Regions from separate parts of the Homo sapiens genome. Here all the other regions are linked to region 3. The links come from fine-mapping of genetic effects on gene expression. A gene starts in region 3. Each other region holds a variant in brackets. All regions are shown on one strand. Distances are from middle to middle. Region 1 has its middle 42 kb from the start of CHST2. Region 2 has its middle 110 kb from the start of CHST2. Region 3 holds the start of CHST2 (carbohydrate sulfotransferase 2). Region 4 has its middle 52 kb from the start of CHST2. Region 5 has its middle 36 kb from the start of CHST2. Region 6 has its middle 57 kb from the start of CHST2. Region 7 overlaps SLC9A9 (solute carrier family 9 member A9).

The links.
Region 1: its variant is fine-mapped to the expression of CHST2 in whole blood (TOPMed, PIP above 0.99).
Region 2: its variant is fine-mapped to the expression of CHST2 in whole blood (TOPMed, PIP above 0.99).
Region 4: its variant is fine-mapped to the expression of CHST2 in whole blood (TOPMed, PIP above 0.99).
Region 5: its variant is fine-mapped to the expression of CHST2 in whole blood (TOPMed, PIP above 0.99).
Region 6: its variant is fine-mapped to the expression of CHST2 in whole blood (TOPMed, PIP above 0.99).
Region 7: its variant is fine-mapped to the expression of CHST2 in tibial nerve (GTEx, PIP above 0.99).

What each region holds. Positions count from the first base shown.
Region 1 is chr3:143,159,987-143,164,053 of GRCh38, reverse strand. No RefSeq gene overlaps it. Among named protein-coding and RNA genes, the nearest start is that of CHST2, 42 kb to the right of the region's middle. The variant A/G (reference allele first, on the strand shown) is at 2,014.
Region 2 is chr3:143,226,229-143,230,295 of GRCh38, reverse strand. No RefSeq gene overlaps it. Among named protein-coding and RNA genes, the nearest start is that of CHST2, 110 kb to the right of the region's middle. RefSeq lists an enhancer at 1,574-2,074. The variant T/G (reference allele first, on the strand shown) is at 2,111.
Region 3 is chr3:143,117,664-143,121,730 of GRCh38, reverse strand. It overlaps CHST2 (carbohydrate sulfotransferase 2), which reads right to left and starts at 1,960. Exons shown (of 2, transcript NM_004267.5): 1 at 1,190-1,960; 2 at 1-1,087. The coding sequence starts at 914. RefSeq lists silencers at 418-777, 838-1,037, 1,098-1,177, 1,228-1,277, 1,308-1,357 and 1 more and enhancers at 603-1,244, 1,568-1,617, 1,903-2,402, 2,598-2,727, 2,403-2,904.
Region 4 is chr3:143,169,518-143,173,584 of GRCh38, reverse strand. No RefSeq gene overlaps it. Among named protein-coding and RNA genes, the nearest start is that of CHST2, 52 kb to the right of the region's middle. RefSeq lists an enhancer at 2,269-2,408. The variant A/G (reference allele first, on the strand shown) is at 2,035.
Region 5 is chr3:143,153,631-143,157,697 of GRCh38, reverse strand. No RefSeq gene overlaps it. Among named protein-coding and RNA genes, the nearest start is that of CHST2, 36 kb to the right of the region's middle. The variant G/A (reference allele first, on the strand shown) is at 1,708.
Region 6 is chr3:143,175,020-143,179,086 of GRCh38, reverse strand. It overlaps the pseudogene PBX2P1. Among named protein-coding and RNA genes, the nearest start is that of CHST2, 57 kb to the right of the region's middle. The variant C/T (reference allele first, on the strand shown) is at 2,385.
Region 7 is chr3:143,653,305-143,657,371 of GRCh38, reverse strand. All of the region lies in intron 5 of SLC9A9 (solute carrier family 9 member A9), which reads left to right. It overlaps LOC102724120 (a long non-coding RNA gene), which reads right to left. Exons shown (of 3, transcript XR_001740940.2): 2 at 2,582-2,676. Among named protein-coding and RNA genes, the nearest start is that of SLC9A9, 190 kb to the left of the region's middle. The variant C/T (reference allele first, on the strand shown) is at 2,126.

The DNA of each region.
Region 1 (4,067 bases), 42 kb before region 3:
TGCAGTGAGGTAGCTAATCCACACAGCGGATGACAACAGAGGCTCAGAATACAAATAATGCTGTCTCTGCTGGAGGGAGAACCCCAGCACCATTCACTTCCAGAAGGAAACTCTTAGTGTGTCCCTGCCAGGAAAACTGAGCCAAACACAAAAAAACCTCCAGTTTCTTCTCTCCTTACACTAATCCACCACTCAGGCAAACAAACTGGAAACCTGGAGCTCTGAATAACAGATACCAGTTCAAGATGCTACTTTGGGATAAAGCGAATCTGCTCTGTGGTCTGTTTAGCAACTAATCACATTTCCTTTTTTTGTTGCTATGGCAAGGAAGCTCAGAGCCAAATCCGTTGCCTGCCTATAGCAAGGGTTCAGGACCAACTGATGTCTCTTTCTTTGTAGTTTTGGTTTTATATTTGTTTCCTATACTAATTTGTCTAAAGGCTGGCATATTTTTATAAGCCACATTAAACTGGCTTTGGAATGAGATAGGATAAAGATGATAGATAAACAGGAAGAAGGGAGGGAGAGAAGGAAGGAAGGAAGGAACATCCATATTATGTGCATGTATATCTAGATGAGAGAGAAAGATTTGATTCCTGAACAATTATCCAGAAAGACTGTCTGGGCAAAGTGCATCATTGGGGGTAAGAGAATGAGAACATCACAGCATCTGGCCAGAGTCCTGTGTGAGTCCCATAGGACCCTGACAGGCAAAAGAGATGGTTGACAGAGCCACTGGCTTAATGGGGTAGGAGGTCAAAACTAAAATGCCTAGTGTTGTTGTTCATGCCTGTATTACCCACAGCCACTATTAATGAGGAGGTACCATGTACTGTGTACTTTCCCACGCTGTCTTTTTTTATTTAGGAATAATTTACACACAATAAAATACACAGCACCATTTGTTGAAAAGACCATATTTTCTCCCATTGAACTAACTTGGCACCTCCATCAATCCATGCTTTCCTACTTAATCTTTACAGCAACCCTGTAGTGTCTTTCCCCTCTTTTAGATACTGAGAAACTGAAGCTCAGAAAGATGAAGTGACTTACAAATGTCACACAACTTCTAAAATGAGGCGTGTGATTCATACTCAAGTCTTACTGTATATCAAGGCCATCCTTTCAGACATTATACTCTATAGCCTTCAGCCTTCAAAGACCCAGGAGGACTTCCCTAACATATCTCATCTTCCTCTGTCTCATTTTTCTAAATTCCAGTTCCACTCGGACTTTGCATTTAGCTACGGTGATGGTGGTCATTATAGCGACTTGCATCATTTTCTAATTGATTCCTATGTCAACTCCCAAAACTTTTTCTCCCCTTTTCAACAATATTGTTTTGAAGTTAGCCAAGCCAGGTTTTAAATTTCTGTCTTCCCTATCACCAAGCACAGTGCTGGGTACACAGTAGGTGCTCAATAAATTCTTTTTCTGAATGGGAAAGTGAATGTTCATTTGAACAGTGAGTCTTGTGCCCCTCCTACCCTGTTCAAGGTACTTTAACTTTTAGGTTAAGTCTCACCAGATCCAGACTCAGTTCACCCAGAAATGAAGACAGTTGCTGCTCTCTCAGGCACAGATGCAGAAAAGGATTTCCAAAGACAAGAGGACAGTCCCTTCATTGCCCCAGTCCCCAAGTGTTCAGATGGGTTTATGCCCCCAGCTATTTGGATAGCCAGGTGATACTACAGATTAGCAGAAGAATGGTGGATTTTTGAAACCCAAGGGAATGAATTTCAAGAAGCTTTCAAACTGCCAAATAGTTCATAAGCAAAACTAAAGTTATATTTTGACAAATACAATGACTTTTCCCCCACAACACATTTCCTTTTCTTTCTTTTTTTTTCTTTTTCTTTTTTTTTTTTTTTTTTTTTTTTTTTTGAGATGGAGTTTCGCTCTGTCTTCCAGGCTGGAATGCAGTGGCGCGATCTCTACTCACTGCAACCTCCACCTCCCAGGTTCAAGCGATTCTCTGGCTTCAACCTCCCGAGTAGCTGGGACTACAGGCAC[A/G]TGCCACCACGCCCGACTAATATTTTGTATTTTTAGTAGAGATGGGTTTTCACCAACACAACATTTCCTAAAGCTCATAGACAGTTTACTATTTAGAGGCATTCAGGACAGAAGTCTAACACTGGACTTATTTTGAAAAATTGGCAGCATTTTAGTGGGAAAATTTCCCTATATAAAACTTGGAAAGTAAGGAAATGGACAATGAATGGTTAAGTAAAAGGAATGTTTGAAAATAATAGTTAAATCCCCTTCAGCCACAGTAAGGCAGCAAGAGAAGAAAAAAAAAGAATACCAGGATCAGAGTCAGAAGGCATGAGTTCAAGGCTCCACTCCACATTGCAGAGCTGTGCACTGGTCCCTTAAGCCATCCACACTCCAGGTTCCTCCTTCAAAAAGGGGTTGTTACCTAGAAGATGCACATCATGCCCTTCTTAGACAATTCCAACTACATGGGTTAAGCAATAAGAATAATAATTTTAACAATTAAAATGGTATAATCAAAGTACATAAGTACTTTGAGTCTCTGCTATATTTAACAATATATGGCTGGGTGCAGTGGCTCACGCCTGTAATCCCAACACTTTGGGAGGCCAAGGCAGGTGGATCACTCAAGGTCAGGAGATCAAGATCAGCCTGATCAATATGATGAAACCCCATCTCTACTAAAAATACAAAAATTAGCTGGGGGTGGTGGTGGGCACCTGTAATCCCAGCTACTTGAGAAGCTGAGGCAGGAGAATCATTTGAATCCAAGAGGTAGAGGTTGCAGTGAGCCAATATCACGCCACTGCACTCCAGCCTGGGTGACAAGAGCGAAACTCTGTCTCCAAAAAAAAAAATATATATATATATATATACATATACAATTATATATACATATGACCACACAGAGTTGTATACCCTAACCAAGGATGCTACATTTTAGAGATGATTTCAGTATTTTCCAAGGTAATTCTGGACATGTGCCATTTTCACCTTATATACTATATTTAGAATCTGGACCCTCACCTAAGCCACAGCTCTGCTCAGCCTGCTTCACACCTGTCTTATGAGGGTCAGTGGAGACAGTGTGTGTGAGCTGCTTTGTAAACTAAATTTGCCAGAAAACCATAGCTTTGTCATAAATATGAAATGTGTATGAACTACTGGACACACAGGAATTACAAAAGAAACTGAGGAGTGAATCATGAAGCACTGTCAGACAAGGCAGCTTCTAAGGAGTCCTGAAGATGTCGTTCTGAATAATTAAAAAGCAAATCTTCCCAGAAGATGTAAGGTTATAGAGCTGAGCTGTGGGCGGGGAGGTCCACACTGGAAGCTCAAAGAACCCCAGGAAATGCAGCTGAGAAGCAGAGCCCTTGGAGGACAGGAATGTCTGGGAGCCCGGAAAGCCACAGGCCTGGGGCCCACCGAGAGGGTAACACAGTGACTGAGAGGTTAAAGTAATTCTGCAAAACAGCTTGTCCCTTAGAGCAGTTTCCCTCCCAAGGACACCATCAGCAGGAAATCATGGGGCGGTCGTGAGAGACCGAAGTCCCCCGGGGAGAGGTTAGGTATCCTATAGAGAAACACAGGGGTGAGGACGGACAGCAGCATCCGGCGACTCAGAAGGAATTAAAAAGCCAAATGGCAGAGTGTGTGACATAGATATGAAATCCAGGTTCTATGAAGAGAAACCCTCCTGATTCCACAGCCAATGAGAAGGTGAGCTTCCAAATCCTGTTCGTGGGATCCGTGGGTGACCCCTAGTACCAGGACACAGTCAAGAATTTCTGTTTCCACAAGCAAAGTTAAGTGGAGAATTCAGCAAATCTGTTGGGAAACCAGGGACAAAGAACTCGGACTTTTTCAAAAAAGGGCTGTCTGTTGTTTCCTTCAGCTAAATTATGAGAATACATTCTCAGCTCTACCTTGTAAAAATGAAAAGAGTCTTGCAGGGAAGGACAAGTCTCACCATTTCAGAAACTCAAGAAGCAGTTTGATTGTCAAATCAAATCAGTCTATAAACATTTTTCTAAAAGTCTCCTCAGGTCTTTGCAATCTTTTAGAATTAT
Region 2 (4,067 bases), 110 kb before region 3:
TAACGTTAGATTTGCTCACCTTGCCAAAACTCCAGAGCAAGTTGTAATGATTGCCAAGAAATACCAACAAGTGGCCAATGAAGTAAATTTCCAGTAGCCAGTCATTTCTAAAGAATACAGAATTTTTGTCTGATTTTACATCTAAGTATATATCTTTTTGATGCAGTCTTTATATGCGTATTAATACATATATAAGGTGATAATACATATATAAGGTGATAATACATATATAAGGTGATAATACATATATAAGGTGATGTGAGTTCTGAAGCCTGGCACTGGCTTTAGAATGTGGCAGTTCTTTGTGAAAAACTTTAAACTGAAAAAAGGGGATGACTGTCCAGGTGACAGTAACTGTTCAGGGTGAAAATTATGGATTTTTTTAGGGTTTTACTCAAAGTAGTCTAAGGATAAAAGAAACTAATGAATTCATTCATTCAGCAATACTGATTGAGCACCTACTATGTGCCAGGCACTATTCTGGGAAAAGGAATAAACAGTAAAACAGTTAAAGTAGCAGACACCAGTGTAATGAAAGAGTAAATTAAAAGACAGCTCACCAAGCCATACTCACCCACTGGCCTGAGGTTGGGCCAGGTAAGCCTGACTGAAGGGAAGTGGACCACATGGGCTCCTGGGAGCTGCCCTTGCTTCCTCAGAGAATGAAGAAAATTCACATGGATGCAAGGCCGACTTTGTGCCAAACTCTGTGCCCAGGGCTGTTTCATTATCTTTTCTTTTCTTTTTTTTCTTTTTTTTTTTTTGAGATGGAGTCTCACTCTGTCACCCAGACTGGAATGCAGTGGTGCCATCTCAAGTCACGGCAGGCTCCACTTACCAGGCTCAGGTGATCCTCCCACCTCAGCCTCCCAAGTAGCTGGGATTACAAGCATGCACCACCACACCTGGCTAATTTTTGTATTTTTAGTAGAGACAGAGTTTTGCCATATTGGACAGGTTGATCTCAAACTCCTGACCTCAAGCGATTTGCCTGCCTCCGTCTCACAAAGTGCTGGGATTACAGGCCTGAGCCACCACACCTGGCCCATTTCATTATTTTGTGTAATCATTCTGACAGCTCTCTGAGGGCTTGTCATTTCTATATCAACAACAAGGAAACTAAGCCTCAAGTGCTTTGCCACCTGCCCAAGGTCAGGTAGCTCATGAATGAGTGAGCCAGTTATGATTCAAGCCCAGGGCTGTCTGACCCCAAAGCCACACTTCTTCCTTCAAACACGCTTCCTGAGGGGCAGCCACCCTGAGGAGGTCATGTTGGGGAAGCTCAGCCAACGGGAGTGGTTGGCAGGAGCCAGAGAGATGGGGCTGTGCTGTTAGTGCCATGCCTCTGTCACTACCCAGGGACACAGCCCCACTCAGAGCTGGCTGTCAGAGAACTCCAAACAGCAGCCTTGAAGGGTCTAGATATGCTTTGTCTTTGTCCTCACTTACCACGCCTTTAAATGTCTCTCTCGCTGGGGGCAGGGTTATCTAGATTCTAAGACAGGGTGTTCTTATGGCTGCCCCTTCCCCCCAGCACCTTTTACTCCTTCCGATGGGTATCATGGCTGCAGCGATGCTTGATGCTTTGCGGTGGGAGCTCAATGTCCCCCAACTCCCTAGCCAGCTTGGAAAAGTGCCACTTCCTCCCTCGGGGGGCCACAGCTCAGGCCAGCTCTTCTCCCAGCATCCCCAGCCAGCACCAGGCCCTAGGGGCAGTGAACAGGCCTCCTGCGCCCTGCCGCACAGCCATCCTCCGCACGCCCGCTGCTTCTCTCAGGTGACTCCTGGGCCTGACTGTCCCACAGGCCAGACACCGGAAGCACAGGGAATTGGACGTATCTCAGGCTATCCCCGGCCTCAGCTTCTCCCTTCCCAGCACTCCCTCCCTGAGGGTCCTCCTCCACAGGCTGCTGGGAAATGAGTCCGAACCCCAGCACCCGTCTCTGGTAACAGGGCTAAGGTCTCTTAAGAGTAGGTGAAGGGACCTTAGCCCTGTTACCAGAGACGGGTGCTGGGGTTCGGATTCATTTCCCAGCAGCCTGTGGAGGAGGACCCTCAGGGAGGGAGTGCTGGGAAGGGAGAAGCTGAGGCCGGGGATAGCCTGAGATAC[T/G]TCCAATTCCCTGTGCTTCCGGTGTCTGGCCTGTGGGACAGTCAGGCCCAGGAGTCACCTGAGAGAAGCAGCGGGCGTGCGGAGGATGGCTGTGCGGCAGAAGAGTAGGTGAAGACAGTTAGAATGGCAATCATTAAAAAGTCAGGAAACAACAGGCGCTGGAGAGGATGTGGAGAAATCGGAACACTTTTACACTGTTGGTGGGACTGTAAACTAGTTCAACCATTGTGGAAGTCAGTGTGGCGATTCCTCAGGGATCTAGAACTAGAAATACCATTTGACCCAGCCATCCCATTACTGGGTATATACCCAAAGGACTATAAATCATGCTGCTATAAAGACACATGCACACGTATGTTTATTGCGGCACTATTCACAATAGCAAAGACTTGGAACCAACCCAAATGTCCAACAATGATAGACTGGATTAAGAAAATGTGGCACATATACACCATGGAATACTATGCAGCCACACAACATGAAGAGTTCATGTCCTTTGTAGGGACATGGATGAAACTGGAAACCATCATTCTCAGCAAACTATCGCAAGGACAAAAAACCAAACACTGCATGTTCTCACTCATAGGTGGGAATTGAACAATGAGAACACATGAACACAGGAAGGGGAACATCACACTCTGGGGACTGTTGTGGGGTGGGGGGAGGGGGCAGGGATAGCATTGGGAGATATACCTAATGCTAGATGACGAGTTAGTGGGTGCAGCGCACCAGCATGGCACATGTATACGTATGTAACTAACCTTCACATTGTGCACATGTACCCTAAAACTTAAAGTATAATAATAAAAAAATAAAAAATAATAAAAAAAAGAGTAGGTGAAGGAAGCAGTTGGCCTTTCTGCTTCGTTTTCTAGTTTTCATCTCCTTTTTGAAAATACGTTAAGTATGAAGAGGCAGCTGTAATTATGGTTTTTCTTTCCTGCCAAAGAGCTGTACTTAGAAAGTTGGGGAGATTCCTAGACAATATATTTGGACTTTTTTTCCCCACTGTCCCTAAGATAGAAGTTTGTGTTCCCGCCCTTCCAGGGGCAGCTGCAGGTACCACAGTAAAGGGCTGGCTAGGAGCCAAAGCAAATCGAAGCACGTGTAAGCCATGCTGTCTCGTAGTAACAGCAATTGATCCCAGCCAATGCCCAAAATATACCAATAGAGACTTTCTTTCTCTCTCTCTGCAACTGGCTTTCTTTAGCAGACACCGCCAGTCGCCTACTCAATATCCAGTTTCTTTGTCTCCTTCATGTTGAAGCCCTTCACTTCCAAGCTCCTCACAGCAAAGCAGTTCTGACTGGCCACACTTGTTGCCCTGCCAGCTTCAGCTTCCCTTCTTTCTGCCTGTGAGGATTTGGGACAGGATAACTTGAGACGCGGGAGTCAAAGCTGACTTTCAAGATATGACGACCACCAGGTTAAACAGACCCTACAAGTCTCATTCCTTTCATCTATTTGGAATTTATTTTTATAAATGATACTAGACATGAATCATTTTTAATTTTCCTCCAGATGAATAGTCTGTTGCACTCACATGATTTATTAAATAAACCATTCTTCCTCTACTGAATTGAAACAGCACATTTTAATATAGAGAATTTTCATATAAGTTTGAGATCTGTAATAAAGTTATATTATAGATATTTTGGGGCTTAAAAAAATAAGGAAACCATTAATATCCCAGGTAAAATCAGGATTTTGGATATTCAGGTTCCCTTTATTCAAGCAGAAGGCTGAATATCTCAGAGAACTCTTGTCATGGGCAGTCTGGTGCTGTTTTATTACTATAATATAACAGTTTGGGATCTGTTTCTGAATTGTCCATCTGTGCTCTAATCTATAGAGCTATCCCTGTGCCTATATCATATCGATTTATTACGGTGGCTCTTAGTGTTTTAATACTTAGTAAAGCAGGTGCCTCTACATCATGCTTCCTTCTGCACTTTTA
Region 3 (4,067 bases):
CCCTTTATGACTAGTGTGCGGTACTTGCGGCACTCCTCCTCGAAACGCGCCAGGCGCTGTGGCGGGCACTTCTTGCACACGCGGTCGTCCACCAACCCCACGACCTCCTTGCGGTAGGCGGGGCAGAGTGGTGACGAGCACACCACCTTGTTGGTGGCTGCGCCGAAGATGCCCAGCGTGGTGAGGTTGCGCCCCCCGCTGCCCGCGGGGCTATACAACTGGAAGACAGAGAGGTCGCAGCGGTAAAGAGCGCTCAGCATGTCCCGCGCTGCCCCCTGCAGGGAAACGGCGTCCCCCGGATACAGTTTTTGCCATACATGCCACACTGGCTCGTAGAGAAAGAACACCTCGGGATTCTGGTTGAATAGCTCGCCGAAGAACGACGAGCCAGAGCGCCACGTGGTGAACACGTACACCAGCTGCCGCTTGTCCCCGACGCCCCCGGTGCCCCGAGTGCCATTGCCTGGAGGGGCCGCAACCCCCGCCATCCCTGCCGCGGCTGCAGGAGCCGCCCCGACGGCGGCAGCGGGAGGGCGGTAAGGAGTGCGGAGGTCCAAACGGGCATGAGCACGGGGCGGCCCGGCCGGAGGCGGCCCTGGGCGCCCCCAGCTGCCTCCGGCTGCCCCCGCTGCGGCACCCAGCGGCCCATCGGGGTTGCACTGCTGCAGCGGCTCCTTGTGCCACTTGTAGTCCAGGAGGTTGAGCATAGTGAGCACCAGCAGCAGTGCATAGCCCGCGCACAACACCAGCGCCTTCCTACGGAACACCTTCATTCCGAGAGGGGACGCGGGCCAGCGGCGTCCTGGGCGCCGGGGCCACTGCGGGAGCAGGGCACGCGGCGCGGCTGCAGGCGCAGCCTGGAGCAGCCGAGGGAGCGCGCCCGGGGGCAGAGCTCGCTGCGGGCTGCGGCTCATCACAGGCACAATCCGGGCCGGCGGCGCGGCGGAGGCAGCCCTGCAGCCCGGGAAGGGGACGCAGCGGGCTGGCTGCTGGCGCCGGGACTCGGGCCGCGACTCCGAGGCGGGCGCGGCGGCTGGTCCCCAGCGCCCAAGGCTGGCTCTCCCATGGCAGCGGCTCCGGGTAGGACCTGCGAGGGGAAGCGGAGTGAGCGGATGCGCCCCAATCTCCCTCCCAGCCTCCTCCTCCTAAGTAACGCCCACCCTCGGTTCTGCCCGGTTCCTCCGCTCACCTGGAGCCGAGGGCGCGCCCGGGAGCGGCCCCGGATCACCGCCCGGCGGACTGTCCGGCTGTCACTCGTTCCTCGATTTCGCTCCCTCTCGCTTCCGCTGGGGGTCCCCGCACCTTCGAGGGGTCTGGGGAGTCGGCCGACTTATCCCTGGGCAGTTTCCGGGCAGCGGGCGCCCTGCGGCTCGGGAAGAAAAACTTTCACGCGGCCCAGAGCCCCGCTCCGCGCTCCGCCGAACCCGGCGCCTCCCGGCTCCAGCGACGTCTCCTCCGCTTTCTCGGGACCGCAGCTTCCTGTCTCGCTCAGGGGAACGAAGCCGGCTGGGGGCGATGGCTGGGGGCGGCTTATATGGGACTCAGCTCCCGGCATAGCGGCGCAGCCCCTCTCGCTTTCGGCCTCCGTGCGGCGAATTTTCCCACCTCTCTGGCAGCGGTGGATGGGGCACAGCGCGACCCCGCAGCGGCGGCGGCGGCTGCTTCCATCACCGGGAGGATGCCCGGGCGGACAGCGCAGGCAACCCCCGCCGCTCCGCAGCCTCCGACTGGACCAAAGGACCCCGAACACACAGCTCTAGGCAAGGAAACCCAGGTGTGCAGCACTGCCCGACCCGACCCAACCCGCCCCCGGTACCAGCGCTTCTGGCCAACGAGGTATTTAAGCAAAGAAAGACCCCGCCGCAGCCGCCGCCGCCGCGCGAAAGCGGCGCCCAGGAGGATGCTGCTACCCGACTCCCCTTACGCCGGGCGCCCGCAACGCGCTCGGACCAGCCTCTGCGCGGCTCCTGCCAGCCGGCGCCCGGTTGGTGCGCGCCGCCGTCTGTCGCCGCGGCTCCTCCCCTCCGCCGCGCAGCCCTCCCCCTTCGCCGGCCCCGCCCCCGCCCCCAACGCCGAGCCGGCTCCCACCGTCGCTGCGCCTCGGGGGCTGGAGACGCGACCCGCTTTACCGCGACGCGCGGGGGCTGCAGTCCACGGGTCCGAAGGCTTAGCTCTGCGCGCAAAGCGCCGGGATGCGAACGCGGGATCTGGAGCTCGTCGGTGCCGAGAGCTGCCAGAGAGTTGGATTCTGCGTGCAGCTGCCGGACTCGGCCCCATGTTTTTGCTCTCAGAAAGAGTTGGTGATGAAGTTTGGGCAGAAATCCCCTGTCGGCCGTCCGCTCCACGCTTCCCTCGGGGCCGACACTGCCAACCTCTCCGGGCACTGAGGACACCTCTGCGCCCTGGAGCGGTGGGAGGACGCGGAGCGCCGTTCTCTGGCTTCCGACACCCTGCCCGCCCTCTCTAGTGGGTCTGTGGCTGCGCCCTCTCGAAGGAAGTAATAAATCTTTCTGACCTTGGGGGTCAGAGGAGACGCTTCAGTTTTCCGGAGGGGTGTGCGGGCGGGACCGTCTTTCCGCTTTACTGGACCTCTGGCCGGGGCTGCTCTTGTTTCATTGTGCCCCACATGCGGAGCCCCGATGCTCTCCGCATTTCCGCTCGCGGTGCTGCGTCCACTGTGATTGACGTCCTCTGGAATTGGGGTGATGGGGGAGGGGAACGCCCCGTTCTAATTTGCAGAAAAATACTTGTCCCGCTTCTTGGTTTTGTAGATGAGATCAAAGAACTTGACCCCAAAGGAAACACCGTTGTTGAAAGAAAATCATTTTTCAGTTGCTTTAGGTTTAAGTACTTTTGTTTAAGGTTATGAGGAAAAGCGTCTCTCTCTCCCCCCAACTCCCTCCCTCCCCAAGAACACTAAGCTGTAGCCTCAACTTCATCTGTAGAATGGGGACAGTTGTAACAGCCTCCGGAGACTGAACGGTGGTTGAGTATCAGAGCGCGCACACGAAAGGTTAGACCTGAGTTCAGGCCTCCAAGTGCCGAAAAGGGAATCTCCGTGGGGCCTGAGGCTCAGCACCCTCGGATAAACAGAGCTCTCGCTGATCCGGAGTTTTGTTGCCTCCTGTCCCAGTAGAGTTTTTAGAAGTTACTGCACAATTATCTTTGTAGCGTTTCGGGCAGACTTTTCAGAGGACCGTTCTAACATTAAAATATTGCTGTTTGCGCCATTATTCTTCCATGAGTCTTACAGAATCCCCTGAGTACAAAGACTTGAAAAGTGACTTAACTCGCTTTCCACGGGTTTTTAACTCTCTTACGGATTTAGTTTCAGGGGAGAAAAATGTTCAAAAAACTTATTTATCCTTGTTTTCCAGAAAAACCCATAATGTCACGAGTACAGTTCAGCTTATTTTTTCTCCTGGGGAGGGGGATTGGGACAAGGACAGCAGAGCTCAAATTTTATATCCAGCTTTCTCAAATAATATGGCATTGCCTCTGGAAGTGGGTCGAGACAGGCAAGAATCCCTGTTAACAGATGAAGGTGGTAGAGTTTAATTGAGCGACTCCCCATCTTTTCCTTTTCTGGAATCCCCAGCCTCCCTTCGCCTACTCTCTCAAATGCCCCTGCCCCTTTTTCACCACCTCTTTTACCACGAAAACTAAAATGACATTGGTGCATGAAAAGACTGATGGGAGAGAGAGGGAATTGGGGAGGAAAGTAAATCTCAATTTTAATATTCAACATGATTCCAAGAAAAATAATTTCTAATATTTTTCATTTAGTTTCTGGCTTTGTGCTTACCCAGAAAAAAACTGAATTGCATTAGTCGATGTAGGGACCCTTTTTAAAAACAATTGTTTGCATAGAAATAATTCCGTTTGCAATTTTGTAACACTTTACTGGTGTTGGCAAAATAGTAAATCCATTTGCCAGGTGCCCCCACAGTGCTCAGCTGGCATAAATTTACGGGTTCTGGCATCTCCACCCTCTCCTTGCTTGCAAATTTTTCCCATTTTGCATGGTGTCATGATTAATTCTGAACTTTGTTATAGCTAATGACATC
Region 4 (4,067 bases), 52 kb before region 3:
AGAAAATTAGAATCTACAAAAAAGAAATCAAATGAAAAATCTAAACTGATATTACAAACTAAGAACTCAATAAATAGACTTAACAGAAGATTAGACACAGCTGGAAAAGGGACTAGCAATTTGGAAGATAAAACAATGGAAATTACTCAGAATGAAGCACAGAGAAAAAAGATAGAAAAAAATATAGGAGACCTATGGCACCTAGTAGAAAAATTTAACATATATGGAATTAGAGTCCAAAAGAGGAGGGAAAGACAGGAGGCAAAGCAATATGTGATAATGACCAAGAATTTTTCAAAGCTGACAAAAAAACGTCAAGCCACAGATTCAAGAAGCCCTTCAATCCCCATGAAGATAAACAGAAAGAAAAACGTGCCAACACACATCATGGAAATCTGCTGGAAACCAAATACAAAGAGAAAAAACTTAAAGATAAATACAAAATAATGTTTGCTTCAGAGAACTGGATAAAGATTCACAAAGAAGGCAACAATTCATTTATTCAACAAGAATTCACTGGGCACTTAATAAGCATCTATCACCAACTTGAGTCTTTAAAGAAACAAAGATATAAATTGCATTATCTCTGTTGTCTAGCAGTTCAAGTTTCATGTGTAAGAGAGATAGAAATGTAAACAAATTCTGCATAAAGCCTGCCAAAACGGATTTTTTTTTAACTGCAAAGGAAGAATGACGCTTGGAGCAGGCAGGTGTGAGGGGGCACAGAGAAGCTGCAGAATATTTGCATGTTGTCTTGCTAAAGTTTCTAGGCATTAAACAACCCAAGCAACAGCACAAAGGAATGAAATTGGACATCTCATCGAGCAATCGTGAGTTGTCTCTTGGGGTTCAGCATGGGGAGATGACAGGGAGTTGCAGAAAATGAGGCTGAAGAGTAAAGTTGGAAACAGATTCAGTAGGCAGTTGGGACTTACCACAAGTTTTTTCAGTAGGAAAGGGACATCACCAAGTCATTCTTTAGGAAGAGCACTCTGGGGCAACTTCAAGGGTACTCTTGAGAGGAAATCGATAGCAGCCCATGAGACCAACTAGACAGCTACTTGTCATGGTCCAGGCAAGCAAGAGAGAGTACGGCCTGAACTAGGGCAACAAAAATAGAAGTGACTACATGAGAGGGTATTCTCTAGACATTTCAAAGCCAGAATCAACAGGACTTAGCAGCCATTGCTTGTAGGAGACAGAAAAATAAGTCCAAGTTGACTTGGGTGTGTGGAGGATGTCACAATGATGTTAACACAAGGATAATATCATGAGGCTTGTTGCGTTAGAAACATCAATAGAACATTTCTGAAATGTCCATCAGGGAGCTGGAAAGTCCAGTTTAGAGCCCAGATGCAAAATTAGGAGCTGATACCAAGCTGTGAGGGCAAAGGAGAGAATGAGGCAGCCTGTGGCCTGGCAGAGCAAGAACTGAATAAAGACCAGTGACCCTGAAGTTAACACATCTCAGGAAATACAGATTATCCCAACAAAATAGTCTTAGGTTACTCATTCTGAGACTTGTGAAAATATTTTAATTAAAAAGAAATCATTAGGATGCGCATTACACAGGAAAACTGTTTGAGAAACAGATCTATTACCCTTTGTATTTTATGTTGTCCTGAAGCCTTTTGCTAAGCTGCATCCCAATTTTTTCTGCTTATACAGCAGAAACACTAATGATATGAGCTGTAGTTAAAAAGCACTTTCCAAGTCTGCTACTTGAAAACTTCAGTATGAATAATGTCAGAGGCATGGGGGAGGTGGTTAAAGGCTATGTCTCTGCTGTGTTTTTAAAATAATGCACATCAAATAAAGAAGAAACACCACTTAAAACTGAGATTAAATTTCCATTACATTAACCAATTACTTTGATTTAAGTATCTATGTATATATACACATATACATACACTGTCTGTATGTGCCAAGTGGGAAATTTTTTCTCTGTTATCAGTCAATTCCTCTCATTTCACTTATGATATATGGATAAGAACCTAACTTTGTCAGAGATTAGGAGCATTTTTGCAGCCCCAC[A/G]TTACTGCAGAATACTAAAGTTCAGGTCAAGAATAACAGACTTCCTTCTGCTGCAGAAATTTTCTCACAGAGCTACACCGGATGCAATTTGAACTTTTGTGTTTCTTAACTACTTGTGGTTTATTTCTTTAAGTCAGTTGATCTTGCTTCAAGTCCCTGAGGCCACTAGAGAGAGGCAGCTTGTTAAGATTTGTGCATCTGATCTTTGAAGATGACTCCCCAGATTCCTTTCCTACACCCCTAAAAACCAGCACCCAATAGTATCTACTCTATCGTGGGCCTAATTAGAGAGCAAAACAATTAACAGTTACTGAGTTCCTCCTCTGTGTTCAGCACTGCTTCATGTAACAAGAAGCAAAGAAGCCGTGGAAGAGATTTAAGTAAATGGAAGACAGAAGTTATATTTTTAAAGAAACTAACCAAAAATAGCAAGACACTATCATTGAGGGCTAAACTGAGCAGCATCCAGTATTAAATGCTGTAGGATCTTCTACAAAGGAGAGACTTGAGTGGACTGTGTGAATCTGGAAGGCTCTGTGAAGGAGGGAGAATTTAACCCTGGAAACACTAGTGGGTCTCTTTTACCCCTTTGCTCTGGGTGTAGCATTTATGTTACATTTTGGCACCCAGCCAAGGAAGAACGTTATACCACAGACCTGGTATTAGACACAGTTGAATTCTTTGAAAATTCAAGCCTTCTTCATCACACTTTGTAGTAAGAGGTCAAAGCTACAGTTTCTCTCACTGCCAAGCCCTCATCTGTGCTGCCTGTTCCAATATTACACACACACACACATACACACACACATACACAGCTGCCTGAACTTGTATAGAGGTAAAGCAGGGAGAAGGATTCTCTTTCCCCAAAGTCTGTAGCCTTATGTGAAGAGGGATAGTGCAGCTGATTCCAGGCCAATCTCAGGCCACATGGCGGCATCATGGAAGCTGGTCTGCAGAGCCCCTAGTTCCTCACCTCTGCCAACAGCCTCCTTTCATCCTCATTTACCTCCCTCTGGAATGTTTTCTCAGTAAGTTCAGATATCATGGGTTGTCACTCACCACGTTTATTAAGCACCTACAAAGCACAAAGTACTCTGCATGGAGTAGAATCTGTGAACCCAATGAACAAGGGAAGGAACTGCCAAGAAGTATACAATCTATAGGGGGACCTGACCGAAAATTCTAAGGCTGGCAGTATGCTAGAATTGTACACAGACAAAGCTATAGGATGGTGTAAAGCTTAAACCTACAGGCATCAGAATTTTTTTAAAAAGCCTTGTGGTTTATGAAGGTCTGCGGGGCAGGAAGAAGGAGGCAAGCGTTCATCAGCCAGTTCCTGAACACACGAGACTTGTGAGGGAGGACCTCGTGGGTCAGCAGCAGGGAGGCCCTCACAACTCTCAGGGAAGATCTCATGAGATTCAATATGAGAGGGAAAGGTGAACGTTAGACCTAAAAATAAAAAATAGGTGAAGGGGTTGTTGATAACATATATTTGAAAGAAGTCCCAGAGTTTGTCCAGTAAAACCTTCCTGAGCTGTCGTATTGCTAAATTCCACCTCTCTTTTTCCAACTCCTGATATGTAATGTCATCTTATCAAGACAGGGGCTGGTTTCTGCATTAAGGATATTAAGGGAGGAAAAAAATCAGTTGGGAGGCTCAAGGAAGATAGCCTCAGAAGATGGTAGGAGATGGCCTCAGAACCCAGCCCAGTGAGTAGACTCTTCTAAGGTGGCACTGGGGAGAAAGGCATGATGGTAATAGATGGGGAGAGTGAGCTGCATGTTCCAGAGAGCACATGGACTCCAGAAGAGCTGGATACATTGACGTCTGGGGCAGCATGGAGAAATTAGGAGGAGACCAGTGAGAAGACAGTGGGGCCAGTTCCCAGAAGGCCCTGCCTGCCAGGCTACATGGTGCAGAGTGGATTACATAGATACCGGGGAGCCAGCAATGTTTCTGAGCAGGGGTAGAGACTAGATCCCATCAAACAACCCCACAAAGTCACTGACTGATACAGCCTCTGTGACTA
Region 5 (4,067 bases), 36 kb before region 3:
CTTATGGCTATTTTATTTTATTCTGGCAAAATATACATAACATAAAACTTACCATCTTAATCCTTTTTAGGTGTACAATGCAATGATATTAAGTACATTCACATCGTTATGCAACCATCACCATCTACCTCCAGAATTTTTCTATCCTTCTGAACTGAAATGTTCATGCCCTTTGAACAATAACTCCCCATTGTCCCCTCCATCCAGCTCCTAGTAACCACCAGTCTACTTTCATTCCTCTATGAACTTGACTATTCTAGATACTTCATATAAGTGGGATCACGTAACATTTATCCTTTTGTGTCTGGCTTATTTCACTTTGCATAATGTTTTCAAGGTTCATCCATGTTGCAGCATGCATAAAAACTTCATTCCTTAAGGTTGTATAATATTCCATTGTATGCATATGCCACATTTTGTTTATCCATTCATCCATTAATAGGCATTTGAGCTTCTTCCACCACCTTTTGGCTATTGTGAATAATGTTGCTATGGACTTTACAGTACAAATGTCTGACCAAGTCTCTGCTTTTGATTCTTTGGGGTATATACATAAAAGTGGAATTGCTGGATCATCTGGTAGTTTTACATTTCACTTTTTTTAGGGACTGCCATATTGTCTTCCACAGTGACTGCACCATTTTATACTCCCTAAGGCAATACGCAAGGGTTCTAATTTCTCCATATTCTCACCAACACTTGTTTTCTGTTTTGAGGATAATAGCCATCCTAAGAGGCGTGATGTGGTACCTCATTGAGGTTTCAATTTGCATTTCCCTAATGATTTCTGATGTTGAGTGTTTTTTCATGTACTTCTTGGCCATTTGTATATCTCCCTTGAAGAAATATCAGTATCAAGTCATTTGCTCATGTTTAATTGAACTGCTTTGTTGTGGTGGTTTTTACTAAGTTTTTGGAGTTCTTTAAATATCCTGGATATTAATCTCTTACCAGTATATGATTTACAAAAGTTTTCTCCCATTTTGTAGGTTGCCTTTATCTTCTAGATAGTATCCTTTGATGCACAAAAAATTAATTTTGATGAAATCCAATTTATCTATTTTTTGGCATAATATCCAAGAAATCATTGCTAAATCCAGTCACTAAGCTTTTCTCGTGTGTTTTCTTCTAAGAGTTTTATAGTTTTAGCTCTTATGTTTAAGTCTTCAATCCATTTTGAGTTAACTTTTGTGCAGGGTGTAAGAAGTATTTCATGATTTCAAAATTTTGTGCGTGGCATAAGGAGTATTTCCTGATTTTAAAGTATCAGGAAATATTTCCAAAAGCTGATACCTCCAGCTTTATTGTTCTTTTTCAAGATTGACTTCGCTACTCATGGTCTTTTGTGGTTCTATATAAATTTTGGAATTTTTTTTATTTCTGTAAAGAAAGTGCCATTGAGATTTTGATAGGGATTGTTTTGAATGCATAGATCACTTTGGGTAGTATGGGCATCTTAACAATATTAAGTCTTCCAATTAATTAACATGGGATATCTTTCCATTTATTTACATCTTCTTTGATTTCTTTCAGCAATGTTTTGTAGTTTTTAGTGTTCAAATCTTTTACCCTCTTGGTTAAGTGTATTCCTACTATTTTATTCTCTTTGATGTTAATGTAAACGGTCCTTTCAGATCGTTCATTGCTAGTCTATAAAAATGCAGCTGTTTTCTTGGTGTGGTGATTTTGTAACCTGCAAGTTTGCAC[G/A]ATTCATTTATTACTTAACAGTTTACTTGTGCAATCTTTAGAATTTTCTACCTGTAAGTTTACGTCATCTGTGAACAGAGATAATTTTACTTCTTCCTTTCCAATTTGAATGCCTTTCATTTCTTTTTCTTGCCTAGTTGTTCTAGCTTGCCTAATTGCTGTAGGACTTCCAGTCCTGTGTTAAATAGAAGTGGTGAGAGTGACTGAGTATGATGCATTGGATTTTGAAATAGAAATAGACACTTAGTAAAAAAAACAAAAACTGGGAAAATTCTAATAAAGCCTATAGTTTAGTTAATAGTATTATACCAGTGTTCATCTCTTAGTTTTCATAATTATACTGTAGTTATTTAAGATTTTAATGCTAGAGGAAGCTTGGTAAAGAGTATATGGGAACCCCGCACTATTTTTGTAACTCCTCTGTAAATCATAAATGATCTCAAAATAAGTTTTTTAATATCTGAAGGAAAATAAAAGCATACAGAGTAAATACATTGGGAGTCCTGAAATATCTTTCTAGGCAAATAAGGCATACTTTCACTTTTCATTAGTTAATTACCCATAGTAAGTGTCCACCACCTCTGCCACTCTGGTATATAAAGTCCTAGAGGGCAACTGGCCAGACATCACATTAAAGAAGCACTATGGCACTGGACTGAGTCAATTCTGAATTTCAGCTTTGGGGATTTCTCAGGGCAAAGTTGTTTAATATCTCTGAAATATGAAAATATCTTTCCAGGATTGTTGTGAATATTAAATAAGGTCATGGTTAAAAAAGCACTTAATCCATGGCAGGTATTTAATAAATATCCTTTCTTTTCTCTTGTTTTAAACATTTAAGACTACAAAGGGAAAACGAGATATGGTACCTTTCACATAAGGGCCTTACATTCTAAATTGGGACAAAATGTACACATATGTTAAATAATTATCAAATAATAGCTTTACATTCTATTACAAGCAAGTGCTAAGATCCAGTAGCGAGTGGGACAGTGTGCAGCAGAGCACAGCACACACAAAAGTAGAGAAATGTGAGCTGGCATCCCCGGGGCAGCCTTCAAAGGAGTGGGGCTGTACTGAGCTTGGTGTGCACAGATAAGAAAATGTTGGGGGTGGTCGGGTGCGGTGGCTCACACCTGTAATCCCAACACTTTGGGAGGCCAAGGTGAGTGGATCACCTGAGGTCAGGCATTCGAGACCAGCCTAGCCAACATGGTGAAACCCCGTCTCTACTAAAAAATACAAAAAATTAGCCAGGCCTGGTGGTGGACACCTGTAATCCCAGCTACTCAGGAGGCTGAGGCAGGAGAATCACTTGAACCCAGAAGGCAGAGGCTACAGTGATCCACTGTACTCCAGCCTGGGCAACAGAGCGAGACCCCATCTCAAAAAAAAAAAAAAAAAAGAGGAAAAAAGAAAAAAAGGAAAAGTTTGGGGCTGAGAGAGGCAATTGAGCCTAGGACAGGAAGAGGCAGAGACCTGAAGATACAAGTATATCTGGGTGGGTACCAGATAGTTCCACATTGCAGATACAGCAGATCAGTGGGAGACACATTCATTTGGAGCATGGAATAGATGTGAGGAACCAGGGGAACCATACTGACTAACGGGGAATGGAGCCAAATTCTGGAAAACCTGAAAGGCAGGCTGAGGGATTCTTTTCTCTTTTTTTTTAAACCGGGTCTCACTCCATCACCCAGGCTGGAGAGCTGCAGCACCGTCATAGCTCACTGCAACCTCGACCTCCCAGGCTCAAGCAATCCTCCTACCTCGGCCTCCTAACTAGCTGGGACTATAAGCATGTGCCACCATGCCTGGCTAATTTTTGTATTTTTGTAGAGACAGGGTTTCACCATGTTGCCCAGGCTGGTCTTGAACTCCTGGGCTCAAGTGATTCGCCTGCCTCAACCTCCCAAAGTGCTGGGATTACAGGCGTGAGCCCTCATACCCAGCAGGCGGCTGAGTCATTCTTGATGGCAGAGGCAAGAGCAGCTGTGGTGGATCCTTAAGTAAAGATGGAGCTCAAGGTAAGCATATAATGCTTTAGTTTGATCTGTGTTTGGTAGTCACAGAAGTGTTTTAAGCAAAGGAATCATAAGATCATAGCACGGTATCTTGAGCAGAGTTCTGTTGCAGGAAATCAAAACCACTTTGCCAATTTTAAGCAGAAATGTTAAATGCCTATAAAGTCATTGAAAGGGCTGCAGGACTGAACTCTAGGCCATTCTGTTAGAGGGATTGTAAATTGGTGAAGACTTTTTGGAAAGCTGTTGGATGACATCTATCAAAACTATAAACATGTATTATATTTGATTCAGTAATCGCATTCTAGAAAAAACTCAATTTTTAGAAAAATGTAT
Region 6 (4,067 bases), 57 kb before region 3:
CTGACAGTCTTGTAAAATCCTGAGAATGTCTGAGGGGATCAGATGGTAGGGTTCAGGGCTGAGGATGGGACAGTGTTGATGTTACTTTTCCCCCACATCTGGCTTTTTGCAACCTCCTCCCTCTCCCTACCCCTTGATTTTGGTGTGACAAAAAGATACCTCATTTATGCGGAAATTGAGGAAGATACATATACAAGCACCCCAACCCATAATTAACATATTTGGCAATAACTCCCTTCCCATTCTTCCCCCTCCAATTTTCAAATAGAGTTTTTTAAAAAATTAAAGACATGTCACTCACAGGGGAAGATGGCATCTTCAATTTCCTCAAAATTACTGAGTCCAGCCCTGCCCAAGGGTTGTGGGAAGAAGGGGGATGAGAGGCCAGCAGGGCAAGCCCTTCACTGCCTCCACATCAAATGCGGCAGAAACCTGCCTGCATGAACAAAGAACACCTAATGGATTTTAGGGGGCAAAGCTTGGTGCCCTGTAAAATTTACTTCCTGATGGACAGGCCTGGAGCCAGGGGGGCCTCTTTACCAGTTCTGTTTGTCCCCCTTTCTCTTACCAGAACCCCTTTGGCTATCACCCCTAATATGGGAAAGTAAGAAATAAAAAAAAGACAAGAAATCAACATATTTATTTAAAAAAAAAAAACAAGCTACTTCCCCAAACTAAATTAAAAATTAAGAACCACCACCACCAACAACAACAACAACAAAAACAACAACAACAACAAAAACAGATGGATCCCAGGGTTTCTTTTTCTTTCTTTAAAAAAAAAAAAAAAAAAAAGTTCAACCCCAAAGCCCAGTCAATAATTCCCTAAAGTAGCAGAAACTCCCTCCGAGGTAGATATCTGAGTCAGACACTCTCGTCCACCAAGCGATTCTATTGGTTTAAGATGAGCTGCGTATGAGGTAAGTAAGCTGTCTGGAGGGGCAGGGGTGGGGATGCATGGGGGCGTGTCCCATGTCCTCTGTCCAGAAGTCATGTCCCCATTTTTGGCATCTCTGATTGGGCAGGGCTGGCGTCTCCAGATTCCAGAGCCTACAAGTGGGGTGGGGAAGGGAAAGTGGGGGAGCCCAGGAGAGAAACAGAATAGTTGCAAGTGGGAGTATGTGTGTGTGAGGTGTGGGAGAGGGAGAGAGAAAGACAGAGGAGAAAAAGGGGTCTGAGAAAATAGGTTTCTGGGTATGTGCATGTTTCTGTGTAAGAAAGAAAGCGAGAGAGGAAAAAGTTGGAAAAAAGGGAGAGACAGACCCCACACTCCCCTTAGGGGCCCCATTCTTCCTGCCATGTAATTAGCACCCCCAGCACAGACAGTCTCATTAGGGAGCGGATGACCCCATTGGCCCTTCTCTGTCTTGTGCTTCTCCTGTATTGGGGTTTGTCCTCTGGAAGCCTGCGTCCTCTTCAAGAGTCGCCTTGTGAGAGCCCCCACCCCTGTGACCCTGAGGGGCAAGATCAGTTGGAGGTATCAGAGTGAACACTCCCTGGTCCCTCCGTTGGGGATGTCACTGAAGAGGGGGTCACAGCCTCTTGCCAGCTGCCATTTGCCCTCATTTCCCGTGGGCTGTACATCTGGCCTCCCCCGAGGTTATCCCCATAGCCCCCTGGCCCCATCGAGCGTCGGAGTGATGCCACCTGGGAAGCAGAATAGGAATCTCCGTTGAGCCCAGGCATCCCCAGAAACATGTCTCCAGATCCTGAGATATTGAAAGAGCCGCCAGAGCCTGCAGAGGAAGGGGGTGTCGGGGAGCTGGTGCTGCTGTGGCCCCCCTGGGTGACTGACACGGCTGTCTTGACAGCATAGATGTTTGCCTCCTCTTGGAACTTTCCGATGTTTTTCTTATAGCGAATCTTCTTGTTGCCAAACCGGTTGGAGACCTGAGACACGGTGATGCCACACTTCTTGGCAAGCTCCTCCTTGGCCTCCTCACTAGGATATGGGTTACTCAGGTGGGAGTAGAAATACTCATTTAGGACCTCAGTGGCCTGTCTGCTGAAGTTACGGCGCTTTCGTCTGGCATCCAGGAAACGGGAGCGCAGCATCATCATAGCCTCGCAGGTGCTCTGCTTCAGCTGCATCTGGATGGCGCTGAACTTTCGATGGATGATGCTCACCATGCGTTCCATCTCTTTGGGGGCCACGGGCCTGGTGCGGCTCTGCTCCCTCAGCAGGTTCATGACATGGGTCGTGAACTCATTACATGCCTGCTCATACTTCTCCAGTTCCGAGTGGTATATGTGACGGATCTGGGCAAGTTTGCTGCGATAGTCCGAGTGTTCGATGGAGTTGTCAGGGGACACGCCACCACCAGAGGCTGCAGCGGCTGCAGCTGCTGCTGCTGAGCCGCCCCCTTTCTCGGGCCCAGCCACAC[C/T]CTCTGCCAGAAGCATGTTGTCCAAGCGCATCAGCTGTGGGTCCACCGGCTCCTCCTCCTGGGAGCTCCGAATGCTGAGGCCGGTTTTCTCCTTGATTTCACACAGGACGCTAAAGAGAGCAGGCTTCATTCGGTGGCAGTTTAGGGCGTGTTTCTTGGCCTGGGCCTCGTCCAGGCTCTGGTCGGTGATGGTCATTATCTGCTGCAGAATGTCCCCGATGTCTTGCTTCCCTCGGCCTCCCGGGAACCCCCCGCTACCCCCACCGGGGTCTCCGCCACCAGGAGGCTCGCCAGGGCCCCCAGGCTCCCCACTCACCAATCCCAGGCCCCCCCCGGGCCCCGCCTGGAGGAGGCGGCCCCAGTAGCCGTTAGTCCATAGCTGGGGGGGGGCCCTGAGGCCCCCTCCCTGCTCAGCCCCTCCCCCCGCTTGGTTACTTCTCCCCACAAACTCGCTGGGGCCGCTGCTCCCTCCGCCCCAACCCCCGCCCGTCTGCCCCCGGCTCTCGGCTCCCCCGGGGGTTCACCCCGGCACTGAAGGGAGACCTGGGATACCGGCTGGGCCCCCCACAGGAGACCCCGGCCCCCGGCGGCGGAGAAAATGGAGCCGGAGAGAGAGAGGAGGCCCAAGCGGGAGTGTGTGTCCACATTGACATTTTGTGTTGGTGGGTATGCAGACAAGTGTGTATGAGTACTTTTGTATATCCTGGGCAATAAAATTTCAAGATTTTGCTATTTTAAATTGCTGAATTGAAAAAATAGCTATTTCTGGGTCATATACCATATTTGCTTGGATATCATGAACCCTTTGTTAGCAGACAGATTTTCAGTGTATGGCCAGATTTAAAGGACTCTTTTTGGGTATTGGTGAATTTACACTGAGGATTTCATGTTCCACTGCAGGCACCTTCTTCTCTGACCTCTCTCTGACTTAAAGCTTTGTCCCCAGTCTCTCGCTGGGTCTCTTCCTCTTACTAGCACAAATGCCAGACTCTGCCCTAAAACTTTCCTTCAAAACTCCACATATTCTTATGTCCTCATAGTCTCCCAAGCTAATTGCAAGTTTCCTCAAAAAAAATTTCTGTCCTTAAAGACATAATGTATGACTGAAAACCCTTCAGACCCCCTATTCTCGACGTAGGAAAGGCACTTTATATCATGTAAGTCCTAGTAAGGCTGAAGCTACAAAAGAAGCCTATAAACTTTCCAAATTCATTCTTGCTTGTCATCTCAAAAATGCACCTGAGGGTGTGGTTGGTTTGTGCCTCTCCCCAGGCCCATTCTTGCCCCTCTCTGTGCAGCCTTGGAGACTGCCTCCACTGGACCACATCAACCTGGCTCCACTGCCAGCTGGCTCTTGGTTGGGTTTGGCCAAGACCGACCCCTCAAGGTGAGGCAGGAGGAAAAAGAAGAGAAGATGTTGCCTTCCTGCTCCCACCCTGCCCTGCAGCATGTTTTCTGGTAGCGACTACATCTCTCCCTGACTTCAGCTCCCACCAGACTGGAGTAAAGCACTTTGCAATGTTCTTCATCCCTTCAGGCCTGGGGTGGTAATGACTGCCACTGTTGCTAGTCTCTGGGTGCCTCAGCAACCCTGCTCGTTCTCTTAATCCTGTCCACACCCCTTAAGGAGCCTCTTCTTTGCAGTCTCTTGAACTATGTGAATTGGATTGGTTTTTGCTAAGA
Region 7 (4,067 bases), 540 kb before region 3:
CTCCACTATTACCTCAGTACCAAAATGATATAGCATATTGATGGTTAAAATAAAATTGCAAAGTTTTAGGGCTAAATTCCTCATGATGTTTTGTGTAACTTAAAATTTAGAATGACCTAAACAAATTGAATGACTAGTCATTAGCTTTGTAGATCTGGCATTGTTTCTCTCATGTAACTCAGAAGGGTTAGTCTTTTCACTTGTATTCTAGGATTATGACTGGCAGAGCTTGACTGGCAAAATCAATCCATGCATCAATTTTGCTGCTAAGTCTTCACTGAGAATTTAATAATTCTCAAAATAATTCCCATATTTCAGCCTGCACCCAGATACCACAACTTTTTTGAAAGCCTCTCCTTCAGATCTCACCGTATACAATTTTTCAGGAAAGTGGGAAAAGTTACAGGAGAATTTCCTCCTCCATCCTCCTTCTTAGAAAAAGAAAATACATTTTCACAATAATCATTTTTTGGAAATGGAAAAATGCTACCTCGTTTATGAGAATACCAAGGTTCTACACCTGTCAGGCCTGACACCGATTCAGCTGCAAAATCTTCAGATGTTTTTGATTCTCTGTGTGTCATGGACAAGTGTCATACATAGTGATTTGCACAGAAAACCATAGAGAGCACTCTCCAAGGGAGAGCCAGCATTTTGACAAGGCTGAATGACAACGTAGGAGGACAGGGGTAGGAACTATTGTATGTTGTTGTCCTTCGACCTAGGCAGATCTTGTGCTAGGTTGCTGAGAGCTGCCACATTAAAATATCATTTGAAATTTAAATTCCTTGTAAAACACTTAGAAAATAGGGGTCATAGAGCTGCTAATGGAGATTCTAGGGAAGGGGCTGTCACTAAATCACCCTAAAGACTTGGAAGTTCTGAAAGGGCATCAAGAAAGTGGTCAGCTGAAAAGACAGCAGTTTAAAAAAAATTGTCAAACATCTAAGAGTAAACACATTGAGATACTCATGGAGTCATGTAGTCATGATCTGTATTTTTATCACTAGGTGTGGTTATCATCTTTGAGATGAAAAAGGATTAGTTTTGATGCTATAATAGAGTTGTAGGGGAAAAGACCCTTGGTATGATGAAAAAATCAAAATATTATATCATTTTAGTGTTACAGTTTTTCTCTTACAGACTGAGAATTATCCTATGTTTGACCCTAACAGTTTTTCATGAAACTTGCATTACCTGCCTCCAAGATATTCTGCACATTTTCAACCTTCCTGTAGCCTCTAACTCATGTGTTTCTCTCCTGACTCTCAGCAGATGATCTTACTTTCCTGAAAAGACACATTCCCCTTCTGCCCTTCAGTTTTCTTCTGCCTTCTCCAGACCTTGCTCCAGCAGTTTTCTCATCCTTTCTCTCTGTCTTCAGCCTCTCTTTCCTCTGGCTTATTCTTGTCAACCTATAAATTAGATGTCTAAGAGAAAGCCTCACTTAGACCTCATAAGTTATGGCTTTTTCTCTCTTCATCCTTTATCAAAAGCTTCTCAGAGTGCAGTCCACACCACTGGCTCCTCACTCATTCCGCTCAAAGACCCTTACCATTTGATGGCTGAAATTATTTTCTCAGAGATCTGCAAGGATTCAGTGGCATTTCTCAGTTATCACATTCCTCTATTATGCTTACCTAGAGGTAGGGGTGTGTTTGTGTGTGTGTGTGTGTGTGTGTGTGTGTGTACATGTGCATGTTCATCTCCTTGAGCATAAGATCATATGTGCTTGTATCTTTTATTATCAATTTGAAAGACAAAGTGAATTTTTCTCTAGCTACAACATCATGTAAGAAGAGGGTATGTAGAGGAGAAGGAACTCCAAGCCACAAGTGAAGCATGAAAATCTGCCACTAAAAGATGAGTGGAACTAAAGTAAGTTAAAGACAAAATGACCAAATTGTCTGATAAAATCAAAGGTTTAAGAAATCGGATTGCATCTTTTCCCCTTCCTATCCACACGATGTCCAGAGTGTTTTCCTCTTGTGGTCCCAAGAACTCTCATTTACATGGGCATTGACTTTTAGTCCTGCCTTGGACCTAGGTTATCTTTACCAGCCTTGCAAGGTGTGGGCAGAGCTGGTATGTGCATGTCCACAGCTGTCCCAAAGATTCTCTCCTG[C/T]GGAGGTGCTGCAGAGAGTCTTGGACATTGCGTGTAAGATTGAGCCCTGCCAGGGAGCTAATTAAATGAGTTTTTTAAAAGCTCCAAGCTCAGCAGCAGAGTGGGTGGCTAATTTCCTGACTCACCTATTTGACTCATTTGTGTTCCCAGCAAAATACTCCCTCTTGTAGGACACACTGTCTAGCTTTATTTCAAAACTATTCCATTTCTTCACAGGGTAGACAAGAATGTGCAAAGTAACAGTTTTCTCTTTTGTGTGGGACATCGTTTATGAAACAGAGTTCAGTTCTTTGTTCAAAAGGAATTGTGGGAATGTCAGAGCAGTTATGAACAAAACTGGATATTCAATTAAAAGCCTTTCCTCTTAAAAGCTCAAAGCTTTCGTTAGACAGGTGTAGAGTCTTCCCCATAGGGCAGAGGGGCTCCATAAGTGGGGAGGTGGGGTAAGGGCCTTACCTTCCTTTTCCTGGGCCTAGGAAACCTCCATGGAAGTGGAGATGGGCTGCAAGTCATCTTCAGAGCTTGATGATACAAATGAACAGCTACAGAGTCTAAAGTTAACAATAGAGAGGCCATGATAGAATGTTCTAGTTAAAAAAAAATGTTACTTTTATTCCACAAGATCCTAGCCAAAGGAAAATGTTGCTAACCAAACCCCATTGTAACTTTTTTGTTTTGGGTAGATGCAGTGTCTTAACTCTATCCAAAAAGGAGAAAGAGATTACTTAGCAGAAGTGTTTGCTTGTTCCCTCCCACCAACTGCAACGTCTAAAAGTTGTGGCAAATGTTAACAGCTGCATGCTAGTAAAAAGCAGATCTCTGCCATTTTACCTATCATGATTAATAGGACCTATTCAGCTAGAATAATAAAATTGATTCTATGCCTGATAAAATGGGATCTGGCCAATTGTCATGTCAATTCATATGGCATTTTCTTTCTTTTTTTGGATTTTGCAGTAACTTCTTTAAAAACACTTTTTAATTGACAAGAACTGTATATATTATGTACACAGCATAATTTTTTGAAATATGCATATCTTGCAGAATAGCTAAATCAGGCTTATTAATATATGTATTACCTCGCATGCTTTTGTCATTGTGCTTAGAACACTTAAAATCTGCTCTCTCAGCAATTTTCAAGTGTACAATACATTGCTACTAAATATAGTCACATGTTGTACAATAGATCAAAATCCAGAGTCATTCCTTGCTGCCTCTCAAGCACCAACACCCACCAATTTTCCATCTCAAATATCTCTGGGGTGCTGTCACCTCTGCTATATCTTCCTTGATGTTCTCTCTTATTCGTTCACTCATTAAAGGCTTACTATGTCGCATCACTGTGCTAAGGGCTTGTGGCACACAGAGAAGATGAAAACCAGTGAGGTATATTTGTGAAGTACAAAGCACAGTGGTCATTGGTCTATTAGAACCCAGGACAGTGAACATGTAAGAGTTTGGGAGCATGAATCCGGGCCTCTTCCTGTCCTGGTACAACTCATCTCTTCCTGAAATTATTGGGAAAGCCTCCAGCCATGTGTCCATTCTGCCCTCTGCTCTTCTGCCTGAGCTTTATTTCCAAAGTTCAGATTGTGTCATCTCTCTTATTAAAACCCTTCATGACTCTCTATTATGAAAGAACAAGCTCCAAACTTCTTAATCCTACTTATAAAACCTTCACATTCAACTTGTCTGTCTTGCTTTTATTTCCTCGTAGCACTGTTTTGTACAACACAGTTACTAACCTCACCACCCATGAAATAGGAAAGGAAAAACAGAATTAAAAATACCCATTCTGCCTTAGACATTTGCCATCAATATCATTTTCAACCTCCCTCTTTCCCCCTTGGCAATTAATTCAATGGATCATTTTCCTAATGATTGCTGTTCACACTCTGCTTAACTGTTTTAAATATCAAGATATTGAATAGTTTTGATGAAC